Homo sapiens: one gene and its partners. The protein of the gene in region 5 interacts with the protein of the main gene of each other region in a biochemical or structural test. Each region holds a gene or a part of one and is shown on either strand. Other genes may lie near its edges. The genes, in order: PRKCA, PPP2R3C, SKP2, BCL10, IKBKB, AURKA and NAA20.

Region 1 (3,500 bases), on a different chromosome or scaffold from region 5:
TACTGTGAAGAGAGAAGGAAGAAAATATTACAAAAAGAGAACAGACCTATATTGCCCGCTGTCTTGTGTCAATACCAAGCTGAATAAAAGAGACGTCAGAATGGCGTTTAAGGAGACAGATGGTGGAAGCCAAAAGCCTCTAACACTCGACATGAGAAAAGCTACCCGCTGCCACCACCGGCAGAGATAATGGGCATCGTGTGGGCCCTTGTGGGTGGGTCTTGGGACTTAGCACCAGCCTGGACTGGCAGCATCAGCAACACTAAGATATCTATTAGAAATGCAGAAACCCAGGTCCCACCCCAAACCTGCCAAAGCAGAATCTGTAATTTAACAAGATTCCCAGGTGACCTTTGCAGCTCCCCAGGAGTAATGGTGCACCCTCCCTGCATGGAAGCGACCAGCCCAACCTGGTCTATGGTGCCACACACGCACCTGAGCTCCCAGAAGGTGTTATCCCTTTTTGTGGGTAAAGGCCAATGGCTTCCAACTCTGACTGTACATTGGAATCACATGGGGGTTGGGGAATGGGGGAGTTAAAAATTCTAATCCCCAGAATTAAACTAGAATCTCCAAGGAATGTGGCTCAAGTATTCGTTTTTAAAAGCTCCTTGGGTGATTCTACTGGGCAGCAGGGGCAAGCACCACTGCTGTATACAGTTGTAACTCAGAATTGCTGGTCCATGGACCGGCAGCATCTATATCACCTGGGAGCTCATTAGACATGCAGAACCTTGGGTCCCACCTCAGACTTAATAACTCAGAATCCTCACTTTAACAAGACCTCCAGGTGCTTCCAATGCAATCTTAGCTTGAGAAACCTGATATGGGAATCAAAAATAATTAGAAGGAAAGGCCATTTCATCCACAGAGGAAAACAGGCTCAAAGATTTAAGAGCTGGCAGAGGCTCACAACCATGAGAAGCTGTCTAAAGCCACTGCACGTCAACGTAAAAGATAATTATCTACTGCTATGATGAAGGGACAAAAGCCTGAGTCTCCTATCTCAAATGCCTTCCTATCTTCCCATGGCATCTTTCCCAGTAAGGCTGAATTATCAGATACCCAACTGGTCAGACACCATCAACACACATATAACTGGGACCAGGCTCCCTGATTCAGTGGTTCCCACAGTGTGGTCCCTGGACCGGCGGCACTGGCAACACCTCCTGAATCAGAACTCTGGGGTGAGGTCCAATGATCTGTGTTTACCAAGCCTCCAGGTGATTCTGATGTCCATAAAAGTTGCAGAACCACAGATCTAGGCAATTAGCATAGTTTATCAGCATAGTTTGATTATTAAATTAAGAATTACAGAAGAACTTGAGAAGAAGGCACTGGAGTTGTCAGTGGGCAGGGTTAGATGGGGAGGAGGCAGGGGGAGAACCCTAAAGATGTTGGGTCTTTGGACACAAATGAGGGAGGTACAGCCCTAAGATCGGAAGTCAGAGACAGGCATTGCCTTTACTAGTCTGTGGATCTACTGTGTTCTGCCTCCTGCCAGCCAACAGCCTTACATCCTCCTTACCTGGAAGCCTTACATAGGTAGGTAACAGATGGGACTATATTCAAATACAGAGGGGGAGGGGGCTAGCTCAGGTCTGCTAGCCACAGAGAAGCTGAACATAGTTTGTCATACCCCATTTGTGCCTTCCAAGTATTTCTTCTCCTAAGAAAATATCTAACCTCATTCATCTCAGGGAGCAGATAGCACACAAATAAAACACATAGGCATGGTCCCTGTGGCTCAGCAGGTGTACATGCAAACTCTGCCTCCTTCACCATGTAACCCTGAGCACTGGGAAGCTTAGTCTCTGAGCCTCTGTCTCTTCATCTAGAAAAATGAAGACGGACATAATTCCAGTGGTATAGAATTGTTGGGAGAATCAAATAAAATAATGTTTATAAAATACCTTACATGGTTGGGGGCTTGGAAAATGAAAAAATAAATCCATGGTGTGAGTGCTCACTATACCCCAGGCATGATGTTCCGGACTCCTTTCCACTCTTATCATGCTGGAATCTATAGGGTTGGAGGCCCCCAGGGGACTTGGTCACTGGAGAATTCACCAAGCTCATGTGAAAGGTTTTAATCCAATGCAGAAAGTCTAGCCCACTAAAACATCAACCCTGAGTATCACCAAAGATGAAAAATGTGAGCACAAAAATGGAGCTCTCCCATGAGGAATGGAAAGAGGCCAACGGTCTCTCTCTGATTAAACACCAGAATGAGAATCAGATGCTTTTTAAAAGGCAGAAAATGCCCTGGAATGTCTAATACTGGAGGCTGCAGAAGGTCACATCCTGGATAAGCCAAAGAAGACCCTTATTAAGGTCACCAAGAGGTCCTGGGTTGCCTCCTACCAGTTGCAGAATTATTGCGGGTGCTGGCTTTTATATCTTCAATTTATATTCCTGACAGACAACACACACAAAAAAAATCATTTAAGTAAGATCTCTTCGGAATGGTGATGAGTTAAAATCTTGATGGGATTTAAAGCTGTGAGTGTCCTACTGAGATACTACCATTTAAGTTGAAAATAAAAAGAGTTATCAATTCTAAATGTCATTGAAGCAAATAGTGGGTCCAAATTTCAATTTCTTATCACAGCAGAGAACAGCCTGTGTGAGTGTGACTCATGGCATGCCAGGACACCTGAATCAGGATTACGAGCAACTAACTTAGGGTCCCATCTGCTCAGAGTGTAGGATCTGGGGCAAGGCTGCCTGCATTTGAATTCTGGCTCTGCCACTCTGTGGTTGTGGACAAGCTATTTTATCTTCCTAAGTTTCCTCATCTGGAAAATTATATCTCCTTCAAGCAAGGATTATGTAGGCTCATCCATGTAAAGTGCTTAGAGCAGTGATAGGCACTCGGTGAGAGCACAATAGTGATGATCATAATTGCTCTTAATACAAGTTACTGGTGGAGAACAATCTTAGATGTGCAGAAACTGCACCAACAGCTTACGGAGTGGTAAGCAAATGCCGGGGAAAACAGTACAGTGTGGTAATGTTCTAACAGGGTTTCAACTGTATGGTTTCAAGAATGTCAGGCTAAGAGGCAATGCTAGGGGGCATTACTCATAGGAATAGTTGTAAGGAAGATGGAAGAGGGGAAGCTGGGGAAGCTAGGAAAGAGAAAATAAGAGGAAAATTGAAGTGGGGAAGCGGATGAGAACAAGGGCTAGAGACAGAAGAGAGAAACAAGGGAAAGATGTGATCAAGATGTGGAGTCAAATCCCAACACTTTGGGAGGCTGAGGCAGGTGGATCACATGATGTTGGGAGTTTGAGACCAGTCTGGCCAACATGGTGAAACCCCATTTCTACTAAAAATACAAAAAGAAGCCGGGCGTGCTGGTGGGCACCTGTAATCCCAGATACTCAGGAGACTGAGGCACGAGAATCGCTTGAACCCAGGAGGCGGAGGCTGCAGTGAGCTGAGATCATGCCACTGCACTCCAGCCTGGGTGACACAGTGAGACTCTATCCCCCCGA
Region 2 (3,500 bases), on a different chromosome or scaffold from region 5:
AAAAAACTAGAATGCACTACTGTACAGTAGGTGCACTGACAATGAAATGAACAATAAGCTTTTCTATTTGCCCTGAGGCCATAATGCAGATGTTTTAATTTACGTTAAGACCAAAGACTCTGAATCTCAAGTAATTTGATCAGTTTACACATTTTAAAGACACTGTTACACAGTGATATCAATAATGCTGGGCCGAGTGTGGTGGCTCACGCCTCGTAATCCCAGCACTTTGGGAGGCAGATCACCTGAGGTCAGGAGTTCAAGACCAGCCTGGCCAACCTGGTGAAACCCCATCTCTCCTAAAAGTACAAAAATTAGCTGGATGCAGTGGCATGCACCCATAATCCCAGCTACTCCGGAGGCTGAGGCAGGAGAATCACTTGAACCTAGGAAGTGGAGGTTGCATTGAGCGGAGATCACACCACTGCACTCTAGCCTAGGCGACAGAGCAAGACTCTGTCTCAAAAAAAAAAGGGCTGTATTACATCAAGAAAAGGGTTTGTGGAAACTCTGGGAGCCTAAACTTTTAAAACTTAGCAGCAGATTTAAACTACTACCATTTCTCCATCATAAGTGAGACACTCCTGGAAAACACGGTCTAAGAAGACATTGGTCATGGTAGCTGTTCCATAGCGTGAGAGTTCTTCTTTACTGAGCATGCCATTGTGATCTTTATCAAGATTCAAGTACTGGCCTTGGGAAGAAAAATAATAAAGACACTTATGACCACAATAAAATTTTAATCAGAAGAATAGACTAACAAAAAGTTTTTTCTTGGTTAATATTTTGATTTTCAAACTATTCATGTTATGATTAGGGTAGTGGCCTATGTGTAATACTATCAGCTACCTTTGCAATCTTGATCAGAAAAACCCTTGGGCTAGAAACAGCCAAAAAAACCCATCATGAAGGCCATAGTCTCTGGGCTGTTTCACTTACATCATTATTTGTTTTCAGTTTGCAGTCTTTTTAAACATTCCTAGGTTTCTAAATTAAATGGAGGTAGAGGCCAACAAAAAGCACTGAAATGCTAGCACTTGAAAGTAGAGATAAGAATGCCAAAAGGAGGTCGGGCGTGGTGGCTCACGCCGGTAATCCCAGCACTTTGGGAGGCTGAGGAGGGCAGATCAGAGGTCAGGAGTTCCAGACCAGCCTGGCCAACATAGTGAAACACCGTCTCTACTAAAAAAAAAAACAAAAAAAAAAAACATTAGCCGGGTGTGGTGGCGAGCGCCTGTAATCCCAGGTACTTGGGAGGCTGAGGCAAGGAGAATCACTTGAACCTGGGAGGTGGAGGTTGCAGTGAGCCGAGATCATGCCACTGGACTCCAGCCCAGGTAACAGTGCAAGACTCTATCTCCAAAAAAAAAAAAAAAAAAAAAAGCCAAAGGAGTCAAAAGACCACCCAACAAGATAATGTAGATTAGCTCCATCAGTAGACCCTGGGAATAGCATTTTATCAACAAAGCATGACAATAGCTAATGTTCATAATGATGCTCCTGAGTCAACAAGGATCAAATTACATTCTGTTCTATTGAAAAGGAAGTGTATAACTTAAAAAGGGTTCTGCTGGGTGCAGTGCCTCATGCCTATAATCCCAACACTTTGGGAGGTCAGGGCAGGTGGACTGCTTGAGCCCAGGAGTTTGAAACCAGCCTGGGCAACACAGTGAGATCCCATCTCTAAAAAAACATAAAATAAATTAGCCAGGCATGGCGCCTGTAGACCCAGTACTGGGGGTGGTGGGGTGGGTGGGGTAGGGGCACTGAGGTGAGAGGATTGAGCCTAGGACTTCAAGGCTGCACTGAGCCGTGATCATGTCACTGCACTCCAGCCAGTGTGACAGAGTGAGACCCTGTCTTCAAAAAGAAAAGGTTGGGGGGAGTCCAAAAAGTTAAAACATCGGTATTTAAACAAGTAAATTTTGGTAATGTAGAATACTAAAGCTTAAGGTAATTAAATATTTTGATCTTAAGGTATATCAGTGTATGTATAAAACTGTCCTCTGAACACCAATTTCCTGAAGAATGGATAATTCAAATTTTAGCATTATGATAGGAACATACCATAAACTCTTAGGGCAGAAGGAGCAGAAAACCAATTTGTTTCTTGACTCTCCTTGGACAGTTCCTCATCCCTTAGCTAATGGAACACAAAGACATAATTAGAAGATAGCAACTGTCAAGTGATACAATTAAGTAGTTTAAAAACATTTACCTCCAATAAATCATCTAGGAAGCTGCATGCTAAAATATCTTGAATTTTTATCTTTCCTTTAAGAACATAAAGAAACACAATTAATTTCATTTTAAGAAAAGAGCAACTCAATTAATTAAAAAAAAATTTTTTTAACAAGAGCAATCACACAATTGATATTTTAAAGCTTCTAGCTCTTATGCTCCAAAGTCCTTATTACATATTGCTACAAAAAGGGAAATCTCGGCTGGGCGCGGTGGCTCACCGCGTAATTCCAGCACTTTGGGAAGCTGAGGCAGGTGGATCACCTGAGGTCAGGAGTTCCAGACCAGCCTGGCCAACATGGTGAAACCCCATCTCTACTAAAAACACAAAAAATTAGCTGGGTGTGGTGGAGGGCGCCTGTAATCCCAGCTACTCTGGAGGCTGAGGCAGGAGAATCGCTTGAACCTGGGAGGCAGAGGTTGCAGTGAGCTGAGATCAAGCCATTGTACTACAGCCTAGGGAACAAGAGCAAAACTCCATCCCCACCCTGCAAAAAAAAAAGAGAAACCTACAGGCAACATTTAATAACATCTCTACTTGTATACCTCAACTATATAAATCTAAGTGGTAAATTCTAAAATTATACTGATGTCAGATTTTCAAAAAAGTTGTGATTATAGATATAGTACTGCTGGTACACGAACAGGGACACTGTCTCCATTTATTTTTGGCAGGTTCTGGACTAGAAAGCAATACGCAGGTAAACAGGTGTGGTTTAAGAGCAGAGTTTGTTTTGTCTTGTTCTTGTTCTTTTTTTTTTTTTTTTTGAGACAGAGTTTCGCTCTTGTTGCCCAGGCTGGAGTGCAATGGTGTGATTTCAGCTCACTGCAATCTCTGCCTCCTGGGTTCAAGCGATTCTCCTGCCTCAGCCTCCTAAGTAGCTGGGAATACAGGCACCCACCACCACATCCAGCTAATTTTTTCTATTTTTAGTAGAGATGGGGTTTCACTATGTTGGCCAGGCTGGTCTTGAACACCTGACCTCAGATGATTCACCCATCTTAGCCTCCCAACGTGCTGGGATTACAGGTGTGAGCCACTGCGCCTGGCTGCTGCTGCTTTTTTGTACAGAAGAGGTCTGTCTTGCCAGGGCTGGTCTTGAACTCCTAGGCACCAGTGATTTCTCACCTCAGCCTCCCAAAGTGCTGGGATTACAGGTGTGAGCCACCACACCTAGCCCAGATTGGAGTTTGAATGCCACTTTTAAATATGTAACCTAGCAAAGTCTCAGTTGCCTTACACATAAAATGTGGACAAT
Region 3 (3,500 bases), on a different chromosome or scaffold from region 5:
TGAGTGGAGGAGGAGAGAGAAAATAAAACAAAGATGCTATCAATGGGTTCACCACCAAATGGAAGGAGCAAGGTCCTAGAAAACACACATACTCAGCTAGCAGCCAAGTACCCAGTGCTCTTACTCAGCTGACCACAGAATGACACTAATCCTAGGGGCCCCGGGTGGGGGTACCACAGCCTGATATGGGCTGCTGTCCCAGCAGATGGGGCAGAAGTTTGTCTTTAATAGCTGCTCTAGCAATAGGCATCCAGGCTGTGATATGCTTAATCTAATTTTCCTTGCCATATTTAATTCTCAAAACATTAGCCATCTGTTTCCTGAATTCATGATGAAACTGCTGCCTGGTCTGTTTGCAGAGAGCGGAAGGAAAAATCCAGAGGTCTTTTCTCCACTTGTCTCTGCTAAATCCAGCAAGGCTGTAGCTGCATACCAGACCCACATTAAAAGACATAATTACTGAGCCCAAGGTCTCCAGTCTTCAATGACATGGACGGCAGTTAAATATACTTCAGGGCCAGGAAAGGGCAAAAACTGGGCCAAACCAGCAAACCTACTACAATCACCCTCACCTACCACTGTTTCCAATTATTTCTCAGGTGCAAACCCAGTTTCCCACTTCTGTAACCTTATCACATCTCATGCTTCCTGAAATTCTCTGGGAAGAGGGCCTTGTTGGAGAGTTTTCTATGCATTCCATCTTTGCAGTGTAGGTAACTCATCTTACTTGACATATTTATTTCTCAGAATATCACTCCACTCATTTATTTCTCAGAACATCACTCCACTCCACTCAGATTCAAGCTGAAAATCCAAAGTAATGCTAATCATAATCAAACTTTTGACTTAAAAAATTGCTGCTCTTTAAGCATAATCAGATTATACTTGCAGAAATGTATACTGAGGACCTGGTACTCATACTTGTTTTTGTGTGTGTGTGCATTTCTTTCAGGGAGTTGGGGGGTGCTCACCTCAGAATTGCTTTTGCTGGCTTGTTTTAAGTAGCAATACCCCATGCTTTCTTTCTGGGGAACTACAAACAGATTGTGCCATCCCAGATGAGTTCTCCTTCCTCTTCCCACAAACCATAAATAATACATTTGAGGCCATGTTGGCTTTGGGTGTTTTTGTTTTTTTGGCTAAGGTGGGCAAAACTGAAAAAAACAAAACACAGCCAAACTTAACAAGGATTCCCCCATGTACCCCTTCAGTCCCACAACCCTTTATTTCTATGAAAGACTTGCTCAACCCTGAGGTGTAGGGGGTGTAATGAAGAAACAACAGAAGCTGGGATTTGGAAAAAATATGGAACAGTGTATAAGCACTATGAGGGCAGGGTCTCTTGCCTGTTATGTTCAGTATTGTAGTCCCAACCTCTAAAACGGTGCTTGAGAAATATTTGCTTAATGGATGAATGAAAGGAAGCTATGGAACAAAGAAAGATGACTGGGAAGATCCCATAAAGGCTCTTCCAGTGCTGAGTTTAGTAACTGTAGACTGAGACTCACATAGATCATGAAATCAATTTAGTGGGTTTGACTAGCATATATGTACATATAAAGAATGAACTAGAACAGAATAGAAAATATCTTAGTAAGGGGAAATACAGTTTTGTAAAACTGCTGTTTCAGATACATACCCAGGATTGCAATGTAAAATATGTTTCTTACTGGTTAAAAAAAAAAAGTTGGAAAAAATGCTTGCCTAAGGGTATTAAGACACAGATTCCCAGGCTCACTCAGGCCAGGACTCCCCGGATCAGAATCTCAGGAATTTTACACTTTGAACAAGTTCCTGTGGGGATTCTGATATACAGTAAATTTTAGTATCTCCAGTCTGACAACCACTTTAGGGTCTGGAATTTCAAGCATTTAAGAGTCATGGAAGAGCTGATCAACAAATTAGTTCACCTCCATTTTCATGGCTATCACCTGTTTAAAGGGTGGGGTGGGGGACAAGCATTTCATGACCATAAATAAAATGCAATTGTCCCCTTTCCGCCTGTTACTGACCTCATTGCTGGGCCATTTCCTCCCCAACTCTTTCCATACACTCACTCCAAGGGCCAATCAGACCTGTTCTAGTACAGGTTGGCCACAGAGCTTTCATCTTCCCAGATAAACGGATGAAGAGGATTTAGTTGCCAGATGTACGGCTGGACTGGGGCCTGCAGGGAGAAACTGCTTAGCAAAGAACCAACAAAAACTTGCAGCCCAGAACCAGTCATCAGATATCTATGTACAGCAGGTGTGGCCTGTTCTACCCTAATCCTGGCAAAGCTAGTAGCCACCTGTCCTGACAACTGCAGACAAAACTCCTTGGAATGACAATCCGGCTCCACTGGAGGCCCAGGCTTCCAAAGGCCCATTGGGAATCCTCTATACCAGCTGTCCCTCATCCTGCATCACTGATTTCACCCTTCCCCACTCCACACCAATTAAGCAATCTCTGTTGTAAGTCCACGTACATTGGTTTCCCTCTGTGCCTCTCCTTAGGTAATAAACATAAAAGTCACCATTCTTTCTCTCTCCCTTCAGATATATACTTTTGAAGTCAGCTTTAACCATCAAGACACTGATTACACCATTTTCAGAGCCCTCTCTTTCCTCAGAATCTCCTTTCTTGCTGAGTGGAAGGAGGAAGATCTTCCACATCCACCTGAATGGGAATCACAGCTCTTATTTTTTATTGTATTTTCTCCTCAACTTGACTTGCAAATTCCTGGGAAATAGCAAAGACTCCGGAAACTTCTGTCTTGTTCCCACAGTGCCTTGCTTAAAAAAAATTCTTTTTCACTTGTGGAAGGGCATATAGCAATCACACTCTATGTCAAAAGCTATCGGCACTGGACAGGTTAATAAAAATCTGTTCATCTTAGCAGGAAGTATCTTTCGCCATATTTGGTTGGTCAAGCACCAGATTGTTAGGGCTACATTCCAGACACAAAGAAGAGCGGTGAACATTAAATTTTGAAGAAAAAAAATTTTATACTAACAGGGTCAGAGTAACAATATTAAAAACAAAAGATAAAAGTCCACTAGCCTCCAAAATTGGTGTCAGGAATTTTGTTGGCTTATGTATTGTTACGTGTCAGTGGCATGCTAAGGGTTTTACGTCATTCTCATTTAATCTTCACGACGACCTGTGAAGTGGGTATTATTACAGCACTCCATTTCACAGATAAAGGAACTAAGGCAAAGAAAGCTCGAATAACTTTCCAAGGCTGATAAACGCAAGAATGAGGATTCAAACCCAGATCTGACTTCACTACAACCCTCTACTGCTTTTCTAACTAATCCAATTCCTGATGTATATTCCCAGACCATAAATTGGGCAAAGTTCTCTTTCCTAAAGAAAAGGCTGAAAACAAACGTATTTATTTTCTTAATTAAAAGTGGAATGCATCTCGAATCCGCATGTCTTCCTGCGCAGGGGCCATGCTAATCTTCTCTGTATTTCCAGTTTCAGTATATGTGCTGCCAAAGCGAGCAACCAACCAA
Region 4 (3,500 bases), on a different chromosome or scaffold from region 5:
AGGATGTAATTAGATTAGTACATGGAAATGTCAGATCAGCAATTACATCTGCAAAGTCAAAGATCAGAAGAGAGATCTGAGCTAGAAATGTAAGTGTGGAATTGAATGATTTTACCTAGAAAGCTGTGAGCTAGAAGAGAAAAATGGTGTAAAACCCTTTAAAGAGAAGAATTTTAAAAAGTGAATTGTTAGCTTGAAAGTAGGGTAACAACAACAACAAGAAAATGATTGAAAAGTTGTATCCACAGGGATGGGAAGAAAACCAGGAGAGTGTGGTATTCATGTAACAATTTTCTTGTTTCAGGGAGGGAGTAGTCAACTGTGTTTATGCAGCTGAAAAATGAAATGAAGACTGAAAATATTTGGCAATAAGGGGGTCATTGGTGACTTCGAGAAGAATACTGGGGCAGGATGGAAATGTCTGGGAATGAATTGGGAAATGAGGTGAAAGAAGTGGAGTCCTGGTGTATAGAAAGATGAAGTGTATACACAAGGTGCTACAAGGACAGAGGACGGGGTGCCTAACTCATTCTGGGGAGTTAGGTAAACCTTTCCAAAGAAGATGACCACTGACCTAAATCTTAAAGGACGAATAGGGGCTTTAGGGTCTGATAAAAGCAGACAAAAAATACGTAAGGAAATGTAGAGAGACAGATAGTTTTAGGTAGAGCATAAATTTTCAGGACAAAGGTAGTGATAGATTAAGCTGGAGAGGTAGGTAGGAGCCATATTATCAATGAACCTTGTCTTCCATAATTAGTTATTATTGAGTACTTACTGTGTACAGAGACTATGCGTGGCCTTCATATATAGTATTCCCATTTAGTCCTCCTTGATGTCCTGTGAGTTAAGTTTTTAATCCTTATTTTATCAATAACATACCTGGAGCTTGGAGTGGTGAAGTAACTTGGCCCAGCTCTCACAAGGGTGAGTACTAGATTCAAGATTTGCACTGAGGTTGATCCAACTTTAGAGCCATGCCCTTAACTTTTCTACTCTTCTGCCACGTAAAGGAACTTTATCCTTTAAGACAGGGCAGAACATTGTTTTTAATTTTTTTTCTAAATTAACAAAATTTCAATATTAGAATTTGCTGGGCACAGTGGCCCACACCTATAATCCCAACAACTCAGGAGGATAAGGTGGGAGGATCACTTAAGGCCAGGAGTTCAAGACCAGCCTAGGTAATGTAGCAAAGATCCCTTCTCTACAAAAAAAAAAAAAAAAAATTAAAAATTAGCCGGGCATGGTGGCTCACACCTGTAGTCCTAGCTACTCAAGAGGCTAAGATGGGGATCACTTGAGTCTAGGGATTCCAGGCTGCAGTGAGCTATGATCAAGCCACTGCACTCCAGCCTAGGTGACAGAGTGAGATCCTTAAAAAAAATTTAGTAAAATTCATATAATACTCCAGATTTCCATTTTCTCCTGAAGGAGAAATGTTGAGGAGGGGGAAGGAAGTAGTAAGTGCAGCTAGGTTTCTATTGTTAATAGTCCATGCCAGATATGATAAGGACCAGGTCCTGGACATAGTTATTTGCTCACTCTGTGCTTTTCCTGTATTTGACCTATAATCTTTTTTTTCTGGGCCCGATCACATTGTTTTATAATTATTACCTGTGATATGTATTCCCAGCTAGACCATGAGCCCTTTGCATGTAGGATTCAAATCTTGTTCATCTTTGTATACTCAGTGCTCAGCACTCGGCATATTAGGAATTTAGATTTGTAAAATACTTGTCATGTGAATAAACAAGTAAATGTGGAACTTCGTAGACCAAGAACCACAGGAACCCTTCACCTAGCCTACTTTCCTGCCATTACCTTTGTCATTATTACTAACATATATTGATCACTTACTATGTACCAAGCGCTTTTCTAAGCACTTTGCATATCTTTATTCCTCATATAACAGTCAGCTGAGGAAACAAGCACAGAGGAGTTAATTACTTGCCCAAGATCATATATCTAGTAAATAGAGGAGCTAAAATACAGTCACCGGTACCAAATTATTAATGCCATTTATTGAGATCAACATGGATTTTCTACTAATTAAGCTCTTAGGCACTTCTCAAATCTAGGTTTGCTTTTTTGTGGTGTCCTTTTTCTTTATTTCTTTCATTTTTCGAACACTCCCTATTCCCCACACATCTTTCCATCTCCCTTCCACCAAGACTGATTCACTGAGTTAGAGTGTAGTCTTTCCAGCTGACCCCAAAGACAGATACATTATGGGCTCTTTCAGTTTAGGGTTTTGTTTTTTGTCTTTAACAGTTTAAGGAAATGGAGTAATTAATAACAAACATGAGAAAGTTACAGACTGTGAGACCTCTCACTAAGTTATTGGTCCTGACTAATTCTGCATTCCTTGCCAACTGATAGCTAAAATGTACAGTAGTGTTTGCCCTCATCTTTACTCCCGAAGATGGCCCTCAACAGACCTCCCTGTTTCCAAGGACCCAGGCCCTCTAGATTCAGCTGGTCCCTCTTCACAACAGCCTGGTCTTGGTTTTTAGGTTTGAAGGTGAGATCAAAGCAGTGAGGAATGTCTAGGACCTACTTGTGTCTACTTGGACTTTCATCTTAATTAGCATGCATTTTAGAAGGCCTGAGCCTCCTGACTTTAGAACATTGTCTCACACCAGCTAAGACTGCCAACTAATAGTCACGTATGTGATTTTCTTAGATGTTAAAAATAACATTGAACCATATTTTATGTCTTTTAGGCCTTAGAAAATTTACGTGTATACCTGTGTGAGAAAATCATAGCTGAGAGACATTTTGATCATCTACGTGCAAAAAAAATACTCAGTAGAGAAGACACTGAAGAAATTTCTTGTCGAACATCAAGTAGAAAAAGGGCTGGAAAATTGTTAGACTACTTACAGGAAAACCCAAAAGGTCTGGACACCCTTGTTGAATCTATTCGGCGAGAAAAAACACAGAACTTCCTGATACAGAAGATTACAGATGAAGTGCTGAAACTTAGAAATATAAAACTAGAACATCTGAAAGGTAAGATATCTTAATTATCTAAGAGCTAATTTAAATGTAATAATGCTTTTAAAAAATGCAGAGCAGGCCAGGTGCCTGCACTTTAGGAGGCCAAGGCAGGAGGATTGCTTGAGGTCAGGAGTTTTGAGACCAGCCTGGGCAACATAGCGAGACTTTGTCTCTACAAAAAATTAAAAAATTAGCCAGGCATGATGGTGCATACCTGTGTTTCCAGCTACTCAGGAGGCTGAGGTGGGAGGATCACTTAAGCCTGGGACATTGAGGCTATAGTGAGCCATGATTGTGCTACTGCACTCCAGTCTGGGCAACAGAGCAAGACCCTGTCTCAGAAAAGCAAAACAAAAACAGAAATGATCATTTTGCTTTCAAAAAGTTTAAACTTCAAAATTATATTCAATTTGCACTTATTTTACCTTATTTGACACTATTACATTGAAAAAGTGGAATATCTCTCAATATCCTGTATTTGTATTCATTTAATACCA
Region 5 (2,659 bases):
AATGGCACAATCTCTGCTCACTGCAACCTCTGCCTCCTAGGTTCAAGCGATTCTCCTGCCTCAGCCTCCCGAGTAGCTGGGATTACAGGCATGTCCCACCACGCCTGGCTTTTGTATTTTTAGTAGAGACGGGGTTTCTCCATATTGGTCAGGCTGGTCTCGAACTCCCGACCTCAGGTGATCTGCCTGCCTCAGCCTCCCAAAGTGTTGGAATTACAGGCGTGAGCCACCGCGCCCGGCCTGGATTTTCACTTTTTAATCAATTACACTGTTTCAGCCATAAACTTTTTTTTTTTCCATTTTTTTTCTTTCTTTTCACAACTTGTCCTGTAACTGAACAGCCATAAACTTTTAAAATGACTGCTTTGGTTGGCATTTTCTTCGTCAAAATTCTTCAGTGGCTCAGTTGCCTGTAACATAAGCTCACAGCCCTTAGCCCAACATCCTTTCCCTCCCCAATCTGCCCGTCCTTGCCTTTCGGGTGTTATTTCCCACTGTCATTTACCAGGGTTTCCAAAATTGTGCTTTATTAAATGCTAGTTCATTGGAATGTTAATACATGTTTCACACACACAATCAGCAGGAGAAAATGTTTCTATAGCCAAATGACATTGATAAACAGTGTTCTTACACAAAGTTAAGCCTGTTTCTTTATTATAAGACTTTTCAGATACTTTCCCAGTGCATAGTGTGAATCTCCACAAAGCAAGTGAAACATGAATAGCTCCCTAAACTTACTTGACCACAGAATGCTTCATTCTATCTCCATGGAAACCACTTGTGAAAGTCTCCTACTCCAACTTTCTTCTCCAACAAAACTCACCTGTTTGTGATCATCTGAACTCATTTTGTGCTCTTGCCTTTATATAAAAGAGAAGTTCTGTGAAATGTTGAAGAAGCAGGGTTATGGCACTAGTAATGATCCAGGCACTATACAAATTGTTAAAATTTTCCATTATTTTAGTTCAGAAGCCCTAACCATAGGTATTCTAACAGTGGATTGTGGAACCCAGTATGAGTGTTTGAGACATGTTACAAAATATAGGAGCTATTTTTAAAATGAATCCATTTAATAATACTGCTAGATGCTGTGAGAGACAGGGACTCCCCGGCCCAGCACACACGCTTGAGCAGGAATGGAGACATGGGCATGGGTAGGCAGGCTGGTGGTCAGCAGATACCCTTTCTGTCCCTCCTCTGTGACAATCACCCCCAAGTAATTTTTGGGATTCAGAATAAGGCAGCTGCTCTCCCATCCTGGTTACTATGAGTCGCTCTTGGCAGAAAGGACCACAGATGGAGAGCTTGGCACTCGCTCCAACTTTGCCGAAAAGAGGACAACCACCAAAGTAGTAGGTAAAAACACAATTTTAGCAGCAGTGAAATAAAAAGAGGAAGTGAGGATGGGGCCAGGCCGCAACTATAATTAAACTGTCTGTTTAGGAGAAGCTGAATCCAGAAGAAACACAAGCTGTAAAGTGAGAGAGGACAGGGAGCAGGGCCTTTGGAGAGCAGGAGAGGACAGGCTGTCACCAAGCGCTGCTCGGACTCTGCCCTGAAAGATTTGAATTGGACACTGTCCAGTCACGTGTGTGGCAAACCGTACTCCAAGCACTTTTCTCACGGCAGAGGAAGGAGCTGCCATGGCTGTACCCCTGAACGTTTGTGGGGCCAGCGATGTGCGCTGGGCCTCTGTAATGGAGGACCTCCAGTGTGCAGACAAGGCGCCGGCAGTGCCCACGGAGGGCTGCGTCCTGGGTCCTGGGTGAAAGTCACAGCTGCTGAGGAAGCGAGAGCTCCATCTGGATACCAGAGACCCCTGGGCCATCAGTGCAGCAGGAACCACCATGTGAGAGCCGCGGCCAGGCAGCCCCACGTCACGCGGCCTGCTCCAGGCAGCCCCATGTCAGGGGGTCGAGTCCCCCCACTGCACAAGGCCTGCTATGGGCTGCCCCATGTCAGGGGGTCGAGTCCCCCCACATCATGAGGCCTGCTCCAGGCAGCTGTGCTCTTCTTCTTCCGTCTGTAACCAGCTCCAGTCTAGGGCCTGAAAGTCAACAGACATGTTAAAAAAACAACAGCCACCAACACATTTCAGGTTATTTTTCCTCTTCAGGAGGAAATCAGGACAATTGAGAAATATACTAAAACCCAGCCAGGCACAGTGGCTCATGCCTATAATCCCAACACTTTGGGAGGCCAAGGTGGGCAGATCATGAGGTCAGGAGTTCGAGACCAGCCTGGCCAAAATGGTGAAACCCCATTTCTACTAAAAATACAAAATTAGCCAGGCGTGGTGGCAAGCTCCTATAGTCCCAGCTACTCAGGAGGCTGAGGCAGGAGAATCACTTGAACCTGGGAGGTAGGGGTTGCAGTGAGCTGAGATCGTGCCATTGCACTCCACCCTGGGCAAAAGAGCAAGACTCCATCTCAAAAAATAAAAAATAAAAAGAAATATATTGAAACCCCTTTATTGGCTGGGTATGGTGGCTCATGCCTATAGTTCCAGCACTTTGGGAGGCAGAGGCGAGCGGATCGCTTGAGGCCAGGAGTTCAAGACCAGCCTGGGCAACATAGCAAGACCCAGGCTGCATAAAACAAATAAATTAAACAAATACAAATTAAAAAGCCAAACCCTTTTATTAATAAATCTTGTGAC
Region 6 (3,500 bases), on a different chromosome or scaffold from region 5:
CTCCCAAAGCGCTGGGATTACAGGCGTGAGCCACTGCGCCTGGCCTTCCACAGTAAACTTTCTAAAAGGCAGAGTTCCCTTCTGAGTTCAAAAAAGCTTCAGTAGCTTCCAAATGCCCTAGAGATGAGGCCCCATTCCTTAACATGGCCAGCAATGCCCATGGTGACCTCACCGCAGCCTGCCTCAGTTCACCCACTTCTCTGGATTTCCCCCACACTTTAGATCTCAGTCCCTTCAAGTCACTTACTGCAAGCACCCTACATCCAGACTCAGTAACAAGCAATCAAAAGGACACCAATTTATGCTGTGTCCTCCCTGGGTGCCCAACTCTTCCAAGAGGGTGAGAATCAGGTCTGTATTTTTAGCATAGGTCTGGCCCATGGGCAGACACTGTTACTTCAACCCAGACACCATATTTTCTCCCCATCCTCAACAGATATAAAAGCTAAGGCTCCAAACAATAAGTGCAAGTATATACACTGGCTTTTTTAGCAACGACGACAAAGAAGGACTATCCAATGAGTCTCAAAAGCTAGTTTACCAGGTGCCGATGGCAGGGGCTGCTTGCTCTTTTGGGTGTTATTCAGTGGCCTGGAGACAGGATGAGGTACACTGGTTGCCTGCAATTGCTTCTGCTTCTGATTCTGAACCGGCTTGTGACTGGAGACAAGCTTTTGTGCTTGCAAAGGAATGCGCTGGGAAGAATTTGAAGGACACAAGACCCGCTGAGCCTGGCCACTATTTACAGGTAATGGATTCTGACAAGGAAATTGCTGAGTCACGAGAACACGTTTTGGACCTCCAACTGGAGCTGTAGCCTAGAATGGAAGAGAAAATAAACTTTCTGGCATTCATGAAAGCAAAAGATGAATATATTGAGAATTTCACAAAGTTTGTTCTCTAGTATAGCAAAATAATGAATGTCACTGATAAGAGATGGAAGGTGAAAAGGTATTTTAATCAGTACCTCCAGAGGATAGTTAGTATGTGGCTAAGAATACCTGAATGATACCTTCTATCCCCTCCAATTCCTCACCCCTAAAAATCATGCTTTATTAACAAATATCCATTAATGAAGGAGACACTTTCTAAAATTTCTCAATAATTTGGAAATAGACACTACATTGCTATTTGGCAAAAAGCTATGATACAAAAACTTTATGCCAAAATCTCAGTTCCATTGAAATTTCTTTGATAATATACGTTTAAGAAAAAGACCAAAAAAAAATACGTCAAAACGTTCAACAGTGGTATTATCTTCATGAAGTTTTAGAAGAGTCTAAGTTTTCATATATCGAAGATTTTCCACAATAAGCTTATTACTGTACTATTGATTAACCAATGTTTCATTTTCCAAGTATTGACAAAATGGAATTGAGCAAAAAACTGACAAAGAGGAAACAAATGTAGACACTTCACAAAGTTACTACTAAAATGTATTATTATTATTATTTTTGAGATGGAGTCTTGCTCTGTCACCCAGACTGGAGTGCAGTGGCATGATCTCGGCTCACTGCAACCTCTGCCTCCCAGGTTCAAGCAATTCTCTGCCTCAGCCTCCCAAGCAGCTGGGACGACAGGCGCCTGCCACCACGCCTGGCTAATTTTTTGTATTTTTAGTAGAAACAGGGTTTCACCATCTTGGCCAGGCCGGTCTTGAACTCCTGACCTTGTGATCCACTCTCCTTGGTCTCCCAAAGTGCTGGGATTACAGGCGTGAGCCACCGCGCCCAGCCTTGAAATGTATTATTTATACGCCTGTAAGTACTGTATTACAACCTTAAATTGTTAAGTTAACTCTAACACCCTCAGCTAATCAAACTAAAAGGGGTAGGAGGGATGAGATTTCCTTCAGCTTCAACAGCTCATTGTAAGTGAGGGACAAGTGCTAGAAATGAAAGCCTCAAAGTCCATCCCCAGCTCAACGGTATGAGTGCTCTACAAAGAGAGGGTGTTAAGACTTCCAAATACAAAGTCAGTTACTCCTGAAATTAGCACACTGTCCACAACGCAGCAGGCATTCAGACAAAGACAAATAAAAAGAAACATTTTAAATATAGAGCAATTTTTTAAATGGCCGTTATCATAGGAACTTAGAATCAAATACAGTAATTCAAGGTAGCCTTTTTCTAATTATTTTATATTTATGGCCAATTTTAAAAGTTTTGAACTCCTGCCAGATGCATTATTACTATTATCCTGCATACAGTGGAGGGATATAGAAACTTAAGCAGCCGATTATAAGACAAAGCAGAACAAAAAAGCTACTCTAAGAAGCAGCAAAATGTTACTGAACACGAGAAAAGTGACTAATTCATATCCAGGATCACAGTAAGGGATCTAAATTTAAATCCAAAGTAAAGGCGGAAAGAATTCCCGACAAGACCAACCTCCATGTGGGTTTATAAATGTGAATGAGATTACAGATTATTCAATTTACCTTAACAGGTCCTGAAATGCAGTTTTCTTTAGATCGGTCCATGATGCCTGAAAAGAAAAAGAAGAACCTTTAATTTGAACAAAGCCACCTGCTTAAAGTGCTGTTGCTCGATAGGCAGCGTTACAGTTCCCCAATCAAAAGGCCTCCACAACACACCGGATTTTACATGTTTTGTCCAAATGAAGCTAATGAGGGAGGGACAGGCATGTGCTTTCCCTGCAAGGCCAACCTCCCCTTGGGCACTGCGTCCCATCCTCTGTCACGGAGTCTTCACTCCTGATGGTCTTGCTGCTCCATCATCTCTCCTCTAATGGATCACTTCCATCCCTGTGCAGCCTACTGGCATACCTGCTACCTTAAAAAAGTCCTCTTTAGGCCGGGCATGGTGGCTTACACCTGTAATCCCAGCATTTTGGGAGGCCGAGGTGGGCGGATCACCTGAGGTCAAGAGTTCGAGACCAGCCTGGCCAACATGGTGAAACCCCGTCTCTACTAAAAATACAAAACTTAGCTGAGCGTGGTGGCAGTCACCTGTAATCCCAGCTACTCGGGAGGCTGAGGCAGGAGAATCACTTAAACCCAGGAAGCAGAGGTTGCAGTGAGCTGAGATCACACCATTGCACTCCAGCCTATGGGAAAAGAGCGAGACTTCGTCTCAAAACAATAAAATAAAATAAAAGTCCTCTTTATTCTATTATCGTTGCTAACAATGACCCCCTCCTCTCCAACAGCAAAGCTCCAGAAGAACCGTCCACACTTGCCACCTCTACTGCTCCTCTCCCCTCCCCTGAGCCCATCCCCACCTGGCTTTTTTGTCTCCACCACATTGTCAGGCTCATGGCTGACACCTACTGCTGCCAAACCCAAGGGTCAATTCCACCTTCCCCGTACTTGCATCCTCAGCAGAATCTGACAAGGTTGATCACATCTTACACTTTTTTCTTCACTTCACTTCCAGGTTTATCTACCACCTAGTCGTCCTGTCTTTCCCTCCTTGCTGGGTCAGTCTCATTTTTGCCAGATCAAGGGTCTGGGGTGACTCAAGAACGAGTCCCTGGAC
Region 7 (3,397 bases), on a different chromosome or scaffold from region 5:
TTTGTATAATCATATCTGTGCAAAATAAGTAAGTTTTGTTTCCTCTCATATGTAAATACAATTGATTTTTATACTGACTTTATATCCAACAACTTTGCCTTTTATTAATTCTAAATATTTATATTCTTATGGATTTTATATTTATATAATCATATCTGTGCAAAATAAGTTTTGTTTCCTCTCAATCCTCCTATCGTTTATTTTTTCCTGCTTTCCTGTGCTATAATTTCTAGTAAATTACTGAAGCGGGACTAACTTGTCCCTAATTTCAAAAGGAAAGCATTCAGTGTATCACTACTAAATATATTTACTACAAATTTCTTGTAGATATTTTTCAGGTTAAGGAAGTTCCCCCTTTCTATTTCCCAGTTTGCTAACAGTTTTTATCAGGAAGGAATATTGGATTTTATCAAGTTTGCTGCACTTTCTAAAATAACCAGTGTTCTCCTTTAGTGTAAAGTTGAAACCACCTTGTTCCTGATGTGTCATCCTATTTATGTAGTGCCAAATCCACTTTGCTAATTATTTTTCCGAGATTTTGCATCTGAGTGAGATGTTCCTCGAATTTTCCTTTCCCATATTTTGCCAAGTATTGTTATCAAGGTTATCCTGGCCTTAAAAAATAAGTTGAGGAATGTTCCCTTTTTTGGCTTGTGCAAAATAGTTTGTGTAAAAGTGACCTTTCAGTCATTATTTCTTAAATGTTTAGTAAAATTGGCCAGAGAAGCCACAGCTTTCTTCGTGAAAAGATTTTGGGCTACTGATTGAAATTCTTTAGGGCAGGGGTTGGCTTATAACCTATTTTGCTACTGCCTTCAAGCTAAGAATGGTTTTTGCAATGGTTGTTAAAAACAAAACAAAACAAAACAAAACAAAAAACTATGTAACCAAGACTTTAGGTGGCCTGTAATGCCTGAATATTTACTATCTGACCCAGAAGAAAATTGCTGATTCTTGTTCTATAGGCTTGACAAATTTCTATCTCATTGTTCTATCAATTAGAAAAAAGCATGTCTAAATCTCCCATTATAATAATAATTTGTCTATTTCTCCTTGTAGTTTTGTCAATTTGTGCATTTTTACTTTGAAATGATGTCACTTGGTATATACCATTTTAAATCGCTATTTTTTTTTTTTTTTTTGAGATGGAGTCTCGCTCTGTTGCACAGGCTGGAGTGCAATGGCGTGATCTTGGCTCACTGTAATCTTCGCCTCCCAGGTTCAAGCAATTCTCCTGCCTCAGCCTCCCGAGTAGCTGGGATTACAGTCACGTGCTACCACACCCGGCTAATTTTTGTATTTTTAGTCGAGACGGGATTTCACCATGTTGGCCAGACTGGTCTGGAACTCCTGACCTCAAGTGATCCACCTGTCTCGGCCTCCCAAGGTGCTGGGATTACAGTCATGAGCCACCACTCCCAGACTTGTTACTTCCTTGATTAAATATTTTATCAATATGCAGTGACCCTTTTTTATGCTGGTAATAATTATTCAACTATAACTATTATTAATAAGTATTCTAACTTTCTTTTGGTTAGAATTTGCAAGGTAATTTAAAAATTTACTTTCAATCTTTCTGTATTAAAAATATTTTAATATATTTTACACATATTTCCTGTAAACAATACAGACAGCCTTTGTCTTTTAAATAGAGTCATCATAGCTGGCCGTGCATGGTGGTGGGCGCCTGTAATCCCAGCTACTCAGAGGGTGAGAGAGGAAAATCATTTGAGCCTGGGAGGCAGACGTTGCAGTGAGCTGAGATCACGCCACTGCACTCCAGCCTGAGCAACAGAGCAAGACCCCATCTCCAAAACTAATAATAAATAAATAAAGTCCTAAGTCCATTAACGTTTACTGTTGTAATTACTGACAATATTTGGATTCTGGGCTACCATTTTATTTCATGCATTTTGTTTTGCTGGTTTAATTTCCTTTTTCTCTTCTTTGGAGTTGACTTCTATCATTCAATTTTTCTTCTCCTCTACTTGTTTGGTTTCTATTTTTAATGTATACATTGTATGCACTATGTATACATGTATATAGTGTATATAAGCATATGTATATGTATCATGTATGTGTATATGTATATATATGCCTACAAATGAAGATTACTTAAATCTTAGCAACTAGTCTAAAATAATGAAGGCTTAGAAACTGGAAGGGAAGAGAGCTTAGTGGTCTTCTACTCAGAGGGAGAATCTATCATACAAATACCCTAAATTATATGTGCAAGGTCATAGCTAGTTACGACCTGCTTTTTTTTATTATTATTATACTTTAAGTTCTGGGATACATGTGCAGAACGTGCAGGTTTGTTACATAGGTATACGCGTGCCATGGTGGTTTGCTGCACCCATCAACTCGTCATCTACATTAGGTATTTATCCTAATTCTATCCCTCCCTTAGACCCCCACCCCCGACAGGCCCTGGTGTGTGATGTTCCCCTCCCTGTGTCCATGTGTTCTCATTGAACAACCCACTTTCTAACTCCCTGTTCACTATACAATAATGCCAAATACTTTTTTTCAACATAATGCCATTAATAAATGTGTGTAAACTATAATCATGCTAAAATTTTCTTCCCTTCTTTGTTTGGTCTAGAGAGAACTTTAAAAAATCTTAAAGATTAGCACCGACTTCTTTTTCAGCTAACACAATTTCTTCTCTGAATGAGTTTGAGCTCCTTTGCCTCTAATTTGGCTTGAAGTCTTTGTCAGGCCACAGATACTTCTTTAAAACTTGCCTTTATTAAATCTAATAATTAAGTAGAAATTAAGCTCAAGAACCCTTCTCAGCAACTATTCTCTTTCCTACCACACTTTTAGGAAATTACAGTGGAGAAAGAAATGGCAGCTTGACAACAGGTGAAGCTACTACAAACATCTCTCTTCTAGAATGAAGATACGAGGAGGGGCCTTCTCTTCTATTTATTGTATTTCTTTTATCTCCAGTAATGAAGAGGTTTGATATATACAACACGTCCCTTAAAAAAAAAAAAAAAAATGCCATGCTGGCAGTTCGCAAACTGTGCACTCAGGTGCCCTAAGGTGTCCCAAACTCATACAGCCACCAAAGGATATTTCGAATGTTCAGGGAAAACAGCAAAACCTTACATGTCAGATATTGGCAAACTAGTTTGAAGTAGTTCACAAATTCAACGTAAGATCATGCTACATTCCTCTTAATGACATAATATTTCTATGAAGCTGAGTTTCTGGCAGTTGCTGTGATTAAAAAAAAATACTAGATGAAAATCAATATGAAACAGGAATGCAAGTGGTTCTGCCAAGTCATTTAATGTCCAACAGGTGCACACCTCTCATTGGTAGCTAGCCACAGTTATTTAAGAATGAAATGAAAATATTTCTTCTTTCAATTTATTTTTTTTCTAAA

Evidence for each region.
Region 1: the proteins of IKBKB (region 5) and PRKCA form a complex in vitro, tested with the Homo sapiens proteins (one study listed by BioGRID).
Region 2: the proteins of IKBKB (region 5) and PPP2R3C form a complex in vitro, tested with the Homo sapiens proteins (one study listed by BioGRID).
Region 3: the proteins of IKBKB (region 5) and SKP2 form a complex in vitro, tested with the Homo sapiens proteins (one study listed by BioGRID).
Region 4: the proteins of IKBKB (region 5) and BCL10 form a complex in vitro, tested with the Homo sapiens proteins (2 studies listed by BioGRID, with this or other methods).
Region 6: of the proteins of IKBKB (region 5) and AURKA, one has a biochemical effect on the other in vitro, tested with the Homo sapiens proteins (one study listed by BioGRID).
Region 7: of the proteins of IKBKB (region 5) and NAA20, one has a biochemical effect on the other in vitro, tested with the Homo sapiens proteins (one study listed by BioGRID).

What each region holds. Positions count from the first base shown.
Region 1 is NC_000017.11:66,683,613-66,687,112, reverse strand, and holds part of PRKCA (protein kinase C alpha type), read right to left. Parts: intron 3-3,500; coding exon 1-2. UniProt on the Homo sapiens protein: Calcium-activated, phospholipid- and diacylglycerol (DAG)-dependent serine/threonine-protein kinase that is involved in positive and negative regulation of cell proliferation, apoptosis, differentiation, migration and adhesion, tumorigenesis, cardiac hypertrophy, angiogenesis, platelet function and inflammation, by directly phosphorylating targets such as RAF1, BCL2, CSPG4, TNNT2/CTNT, or activating signaling cascade involving MAPK1/3 (ERK1/2) and RAP1GAP.
Region 2 is NC_000014.9:35,094,491-35,097,990, forward strand, and holds part of PPP2R3C (serine/threonine-protein phosphatase 2A regulatory subunit B'' subunit gamma), read right to left. Parts: intron 2,275-3,500; coding exon 2,219-2,274; intron 2,144-2,218; coding exon 2,068-2,143; intron 695-2,067; coding exon 558-694; intron 1-557. UniProt on the Homo sapiens protein: May regulate MCM3AP phosphorylation through phosphatase recruitment. May act as a negative regulator of ABCB1 expression and function through the dephosphorylation of ABCB1 by TFPI2/PPP2R3C complex.
Region 3 is NC_000005.10:36,155,111-36,158,610, reverse strand, and holds part of SKP2 (S-phase kinase-associated protein 2), read right to left. Parts: intron 1-3,500. UniProt on the Homo sapiens protein: Substrate recognition component of a SCF (SKP1-CUL1-F-box protein) E3 ubiquitin-protein ligase complex which mediates the ubiquitination and subsequent proteasomal degradation of target proteins involved in cell cycle progression, signal transduction and transcription.
Region 4 is NC_000001.11:85,270,133-85,273,632, reverse strand, and holds part of BCL10 (B-cell lymphoma/leukemia 10), read left to right. Parts: intron 1-2,726; coding exon 2,727-3,015; intron 3,016-3,500. UniProt on the Homo sapiens protein: Plays a key role in both adaptive and innate immune signaling by bridging CARD domain-containing proteins to immune activation.
Region 5 is NC_000008.11:42,330,302-42,332,960, reverse strand, and holds the end of IKBKB (inhibitor of nuclear factor kappa-B kinase subunit beta), read right to left. Parts: exon of another isoform or gene 2,622-2,659; intron 2,048-2,621; coding exon 1,982-2,047; 3' UTR 501-1,981; downstream 1-500.
Region 6 is NC_000020.11:56,385,716-56,389,215, forward strand, and holds part of AURKA (aurora kinase A), read right to left. Parts: intron 3,070-3,500; exon of another isoform or gene 2,694-3,069; coding exon of another isoform or gene 2,597-2,693; intron 2,488-2,596; coding exon of another isoform or gene 2,483-2,487; coding exon 2,441-2,482; intron 819-2,440; coding exon 542-818; intron 1-541. UniProt on the Homo sapiens protein: Mitotic serine/threonine kinase that contributes to the regulation of cell cycle progression.
Region 7 is NC_000020.11:20,027,362-20,030,758, reverse strand, and holds part of NAA20 (N-alpha-acetyltransferase 20), read right to left. Parts: intron 1-3,397. UniProt on the Homo sapiens protein: Catalytic subunit of the NatB complex which catalyzes acetylation of the N-terminal methionine residues of peptides beginning with Met-Asp, Met-Glu, Met-Asn and Met-Gln. Proteins with cell cycle functions are overrepresented in the pool of NatB substrates.